Linked DNA regions of Homo sapiens. The protein of the gene in region 2 purifies or fractionates together with the protein of the main gene of each other region. This does not show direct contact. Each region holds a gene or a part of one and is shown on either strand. Other genes may lie near its edges.

What was found.
Region 1: the proteins of BPIFC (region 2) and METTL21C purify together in Homo sapiens (affinity purification with mass spectrometry; one large-scale study listed by BioGRID and IntAct). This does not show direct contact.

The regions. Positions count from the first base shown.
Region 1 is NC_000013.11:102,688,536-102,692,254, forward strand, and holds part of METTL21C (protein-lysine methyltransferase METTL21C), read right to left. Parts: intron 2,430-3,719; coding exon 2,278-2,429; intron 1-2,277. UniProt on the Homo sapiens protein: Protein-lysine N-methyltransferase using S-adenosyl-L-methionine as methyl donor. Mono-di and trimethylates 'Lys-943' of AARS1.
Region 2 is NC_000022.11:32,413,222-32,416,592, forward strand, and holds the end of BPIFC (BPI fold-containing family C protein precursor), read right to left. Parts: intron 2,771-3,371; coding exon 2,694-2,770; intron 1,205-2,693; coding exon 1,082-1,204; 3' UTR 624-1,081; downstream 1-623.

The DNA.
Region 1 (3,719 bases), on a different chromosome or scaffold from region 2:
GGTAAAATAGCAACATGGTGTGACATAAATAGCACCAACTGCAGCACGCTGCAGGGAGCTCCAGAGCTTAGAAGGGAAGTTTTGAAGAAAGGAGTTCTTTGGTCCTTAAGGAGAGAAGAGAAGTATTTGCTGTGGGGGCTGGGAGGAGGGGGTCAATGTCAGGAAAAGAGTGTCACCTAGAGCCATTCAGAGGGCAGCTCTGAGGAACTTCCTGGAGATGGCTGCAGGGGTCCTTCCTGGTGCCCTGCCCTGTGAGGGGCTGGCCGCAGGGTGTCATGCGGAGACAAAGCTTTTCTCAGGGACAGCTGTGTCTTTTGACATTGCAAACATTCCCCCGCCAGCCCCTTGTCCTGTTAGCAAACTCTGAAGAGATCTTTTCACAGAGTTGCACCTGAAGTCGCACAGGAAAAGGGCGCCTTCCCACTCTAGATGCCCTTCTTGTGCAGCTTTCAGGAAGCAGGTTTCATGAGAGGCTAGTGTTTGGTGCATGAGTGATACCTTGTTCAGAATAAAACAGGGGGACAAATATTCTTTTTTCAATTTCTGATCTTTTTTTTAAAATTATTATTTTTAAAAGGGAGATGGGGTCTCACTATGTTGCCCAGGCTGGTCTCAAACTCCTGAGCTCAAGCGATCCTCTTGCCTCGGCTTCTGAAAGTGCTGGGATTACAGGCATAAGCCACATGCCCGGCCTCTGATCTCTTACTATACCACTTTCTCGCTACACCACTGCTGTCGTCTATTTGCTGAATGTGTTACAATAGGAAGCTGTGAGTAGTTTGGTGATTTTCAAACTCGTTTTTAAGGCAAAGAAAAGCCTTTAGTTGAAGGAAATTATATGCATAAGGTGTAAAAATAGAGCTCCCTGTTTGGGAGTGAGTGAAGGTCGACACCTAAGAGCCTGAAGCCCTTTGGCTACCCTTCTCCCCATCCTGTGCCATCGCCAGATGACCTGAGGGAGCCCCGTGGAACCACTAACCAGGAATACTCAATGTGGGCACCCTGGCCCAGCAGATAGGCATCACCCCGGAATGTGTAAGACCTCCTGAATCAGAATCCGCATTTTAACAAGACTGCAGATTGAGAACTTCTGATCTGGAGCCTTTCTAATCACTGACAACATCCGCAGTGGGAAAAGCAACCACACTGGCTCTGAGGGCCACTGTCTATCTTGGCTCTGCCCTGCACCCCAGTCGGGAGCTTTACCACGCCAGCAGACTGGCCTGCGTTCCCATTTCCTCAGCTGAAAGGTGGAAAGAATATTACATTAATGAGGACAGTTCATGTGAGCTTACGCTAGGACTTCATTTAATCTCACAATCTGAAATTAATTCTCACAATTCTGACAACCACGTCAGGAGCACTGTAGACATTACGACCACCCTAGGTTTTAAATATGGAAATGAAGGCAAACGGAGGTGAGGTGAACATTTGTGACTACCCAGCCCTGAAATGGCAGCTTTTCTGACTAAAAATCCAGAGGACTGCCCCCATTTCAGCGCCATCCTCTCAGGGCTGTGGCAGGGGTGACATGCCACAAAGTCATGCTTCCTAAACATCCCTACCGACACAGCCCCCATGGAAAAGAGATGAATGGCTGGCCGGCCGGGCGTGGTGGTTCACGCTTGTAATCCCAGCACTTTGGGAGGCCGAGGTGGGCAGATCACTTGAGGTCAGGAGTTCAAGACCAGCCTGGCCAATATGGTGAAACCCTATCTCTACTAAAAATACAAAAATTAGCCAGGCATGGTGGCGCGCACCTGTAGTCCCAGCTACTCGGGAGGCTGAGGCAGGAGAATTGCATGAACCCAGGAGGTGGAGGTTGCAGTGAGCCAAGATCGTGTCACTGCACTCCAGCCTGGGTAACAGAGTGAGACTCCATCTCAAAAGAAAAAAAAAAAAAAGAGAGAGATGAATGGCTGAGGGTCGATGGGCGTGGCTCGGAGATGCCCACTGCAAAATCTAAACTCTAAATCCCTGGGTTTATTCTTAACAATTTATACAAGTTTTGCATTCACTTCCTCATATAGCTGAGTTTATTTAATATAAAAATAATGTTTCGAGAAACAGAGCTTGAAGCAAAACCAGTGTTTCTGAAAGAAACACTGTTTTTGCTGATCCCAAGCACTCCACCAACACCCTCCAGGGGGCAAGCAACTGAACCTCAAATTGAGAAGCAGGATATGAAGGAACTTGACAAATTGTCCAAGGCAACTCTGAAGTACGGAATTGTTATCTCCAGAAATCCTGACATCACAAATATGACAGTTCTCTCACCCCTGGCCACACCACCGCTCCGTAACTCTCTATGGATTCCTGGATGACAATCTCCTTTCCTGCAAACCGATAATGCTCCTGAGTGTAGCTGGCGTAATCTGTAGGAACAAATTTCTGGAGGCTATGAAGAGATGGTTCTATCTTGTTGGATTCTGTGAAGCAGAAAAATAAAATGGAGTTCATGATTTGTTCAAATCCAGTGCAAAGACACACTTGGTATAATTGCTAAGATGGCATTAGATTGAATGACCTTTACATAAAGAGAAGGGATGATGCTATCAAGGAGAACGGCTGCAAATTGGCACAAAATTGAATTATATGGGGTGATGGGGACATGAAATTTGGATGTGACAGTTTTATCAGATGACAAAATGCCAAAGAATGCTCTGGGCCTTTTCTTTATTTAGGGGAGGACAGAAGATGTGTGGATCGGTCCCCACCCTAAATTTTGCTGATGGAAAAATGGCGAACTTACCAGCAAAATTGCACGAATGAGCTGTCTGGATACAGAGGAACTAGGTAAACACAAACCTGCCTTTTTTTTTTTTTCTTTTTGAGACAGAGTCTCACTCTGTTGCCCAGGCTAGAGTGCAGTGGTGTAATCTCAGCTCACCGCAACCTCTGCTTCCCGGGTTCAAGTGATTCTCCTGCCTCAGCCTCCTGAGTAACTGGGATTACAGGCGTGCGCCACCACGCCCAGCTAATTTTTGTATTTTTAGTAGACACGGGGTTTCACCATGTTGGTCAGGCTGGTCTCAAACTCCTGACCTCGTGATCCACTCGTCCTGGCCTCCCAAAGTGCTGGGATTACAGGCGTGAGCCACCACGCCCCGCCAGACCTGCCTATTTTTAGGTCTTGAAGTGAAGTAACATTCCCACGTGTTGGCTGGAGCATGTTCCTTCAATCTTTCCTACAATTGCTGTTCAAAAGGTAGAGGCCCAGCCAGCCCCACAGCCCTGGGGGAGGATGTCAGCTGAGCTCTGGCTATTAAGTTACTATTGCTTTAAATACTCCTTTAAACCCATGACCCATCTAGCAGCTCTCAGATGGCATATAAAATGAGAGGAAAAGAGCACCTGATCGGGCTGACATCAAGAGATCACAAGTGTTTGCAGGTTTTCCAGAGTGTTTAGGAATAAAAGAGCAGTGAGTCAAAGTGTGTGGAAGAAGGAGCAGGAGCAGAGGAAAAGGTGTTGGTCCCAGCGGGTGGGAAAGAATTAACAGTGCGGAGAGTAGGGGGGAGGAAGGTCAGTTTTGTTTGCACGAAACCTGCCTTTGTGGCCTGGGATATGACTGTAAAATGTTTAACCGGGGGTCAAATATGGGCTTTGGACAAAGGTAGAAGGGGGCAGCCGGTGAACATTGGAAGTGTTTTAATCTGAAATAGCCTCTCAAGGTGGAAGGCAGGAGGAGGTGAATACGAGGCAAAGGGAAGTGGGTC
Region 2 (3,371 bases):
TGCCCCAATTTCTCCCCATTGATTAGGTGCTCTGACACATTAATATCATTCTCAGTTATGAATTGTCTGAGTTTAGTACTCTGCACTGCCATTTCATTGAATCTGTGGTGGGTGAAAAATCCCAAAGCTTGAAGTGATACAACTTTTAGAGTTTCCTGTGGTTACCCTGTTCCTTCTTGGAAAGATTTCAGAGGTAAAGAATTCTCTTTTAAAATCAAGCCTTGATGTCTGTGCAACCTTAGGTCTCTTCCCTTTTCTATGTCTTATTTTATTTTATTATTTTTTTGAGTTGGAGTCTTGCTCTGTCGCCAGGCTGGAGTGCAGTGGTGCCATCTCGGCTCACTGCAACCTCCGCCTCCCAGGTTCAAGCGATTCTCCTGCCTCAGCCTCCCAAGCAGCTGGGACTACAGGTGCGTGCCACCACTCCCAGTTAATTTTTGTATTTTTAGTAGAGACTGGGTTTCACCATGTTGGCCAGGATAGTCTCGACCTCTTGACCTCATGATCCGCCCACCTTGGCCTCCTAAAGTGCTGGGATTACAGGCATGGCCTACTGTGGCTGGCCTCTTATTTTATTTTTTAAAAATTCAGGGCAGGCCATTTCTCAAATAAAAAAACCAAGATTGAAGTTGATAGAAAACAATTTTAATTAAACACAGAAGATAGTAACAGTGAATATAAAACATGAAAACCAATATGCAGGTAGGGGAAAACCACTAGAGGGCCTAAGGGATTTCCACTGAGAATGACCAATACAAATACAGACTTAGAGTTGCTTACCCACCTGGTCAGAAGTACATGCCTAGCTCTTGTCCTAGAATCTTTCTTGCCCCAAACAAACAAACAAACATAAACACAGACACACGCAGCATGCATACACTCACATTCAGACACCTCTATTTATCCCTTTAACAGAGTCTGCCTTATTCTGGGTTCCTGAAGGCTTAAGAAAGAAAACTTTCTGCCTAAGCAATTCACAAGGGCTTTACAATTCCAGTGTGTACTGTCTTTCCCTTCTGGGTTTACAGTAGTTGTAGGATTAAGGACCATTTACTTCCTGGGGTGAATTGCAAACCGGCAATCAAGGGGCTGACTTCCCCCTCCACTGTCTGCTTATCAGGTTCAGACCTTCCCATACGTGGAAACTTGGCTGCTGCTTTGAGGATGTTTCATACTTCAGGTCGGTGGAAATCAAAAGGAAACCCTGGAAAGGATGTGACAATGAAGATAACGTCAAAACTTGGGCATGTCTGGGTTTGTCTGAGGCGTGAGGAAGAGATGGCTTCTTTTTTTTATTATTTTAATTTTGAGATGGAGTCTCAAAGGCTGTCGCCCAGGCTGGAGTGTGGTGGTGCGATCTTGGCTCACTGCAAGCTCCGTCCCTCGGTTTCAAGTGATTCTCGTGCCTCAGTCTCCCAAGCAGCTGGGACTACAGGTGTGTGCCACCACACCCGGCTAATTTTTGTATTTTTAGTAGAGACAGGGTTTCACCATTTTGGCCAGGCTGGTCTCGAACTCCTGACCACCTCAGCCTCCCAAAGTGCTAGGATTACAAGCATGAGCCACCATGCCCAGCTGAGAGATGGTTTCTTTACCAGGTCCTACAGAGAGTCAGGCCCTCCTCTACCCTGGCCCTACTTTGTGAATGCCCCAGAGAAAGGAAAGGCCATTTTGGAGTACTGTCACCCGATGTGACTTAGCCATTGTAGAAGCAGTGGGGGAGAAGCAGGGAAGTGGGAGAGCATGCACGGTAGTGTAGGGCAGCGGTCCCCAGCCTTTTTGGCATTAGCGACTGGTTTCATGGAAGACAATTTTTCCACTGACTGGGATTGGGGGATGGTTTCGGGATGAAACTGTTCCACCTCAGATCATCAGGCATTAGTTAGATTCTCATAAGGAGCGTGCAACCTAAATCCCTTGCACAGGCAGTTCACAATAGGGTTTGTGCTCCTATGAGAATCTAATGTTGCTGCTGATCTGGTAGGAGGTGGAGCTCAGGCAGTAATGTTCACTCCTCGGCCGCTCACCTCCAGCTGTGCAACCAGGTTCCTAACAGGCCACAGACCGGGACAGGTCCTGGGCCTGGGTGTTGGGGACCCCTGGACTGTACAGGATTGGAGAATTTCTTTAGAAACATATTTCCACCTCCCCAAACAAACAACAATGCCAAAAAGAAAGAAAGAAAAAAAGGTATTCTGAAGTGAATGCATAATGATGAGCCGGAAAACGATTCGATCCCTGAACTCAAAGGTGTGTGCCTTTGGTTCAGGGGAAAGTCTTCTGACTGGGAGAATCAGAAGAGCCAGTCCTGTCCCAGCCATGCTCCTTTCCAGCTGCCTGAGCCACTTCTCTCTGAGTCCTCCTTTCCTCATCTGTAAAATGGGACTAATAATTCCAGCCTTACAGATTGTCTTGTGGAATAAGTAAAATAAAGCGTGCTAAGGGGCATCTTCTTATACTGTGGATTTGGCTGCTAAGTGAAATTGATCTTGGTCTGATTTTTAGACTCAACTCTAAATATTTTCTGTTAATTGTGATTTAAGAACTAAACATGTTTATAAGATTCCCTGGTCTGGGAAAAAGCAAAGCAGGACAAAAACAAACAACAACAACAAAAACAAGCAAAACAGGAGGAGGCTTAGTCTACTATAAAAAGAAATGGGTCAGTTAAGAGGTGAGATTTGCATTCTTACCTCAAGAACTTCAATATCTGAATTGACGAATAAGAATTTGTGTGGATTGGACAGAGGAAATCCTTGCTGCAATTTTGCTAAAATATAGAACAAGACGTAAAACAATTGGGCACAAGCACAGAGGTTTTAGCAAGCTTTTTAGTAAGAGACTGACTGACAGCTTGCTTTTTTTTTTTTTTTTTGAGATGGAGTTTTGCTCTTGTTGCCCAGGCTGGAATGTAATGGTGTGATCTTGGCTCACTGCAACCTCCACCTCCCAGGTACAGGTGATTCTCCTGCCTCAGCCTCCCGAGTAGCTGAGATTACAGATGCCCACCACCATGCCTGGCTAAGTTTTTTTGTATTTTTAGTAGAGACAGGGTTTCACCATGTTGGCCAGGCGTGTCTCGAACTCCTGACCTCAGGTGATTCGCCTGCCTTGGCCTCCCAAAGTGCTGGGATTACAGGCGTGAGCCACTGAGCCCGGCATGGACAGCTTTTTAATAGTTGATCTTTTCATTCTCCCCGGTTCCATGTTTGCATTCTCTCTGATATGTCCCTAGAATTTTCCTGGAAGAATTGCTCATTAATCTGTGATTAATAAAAAATGCACCTACAATTATGTTCATTTGGACAGTAGAGAAATGCTGTCCATTTTTAGCCTACCCGATGTATATTTTGAAAATACATAATTAGTGG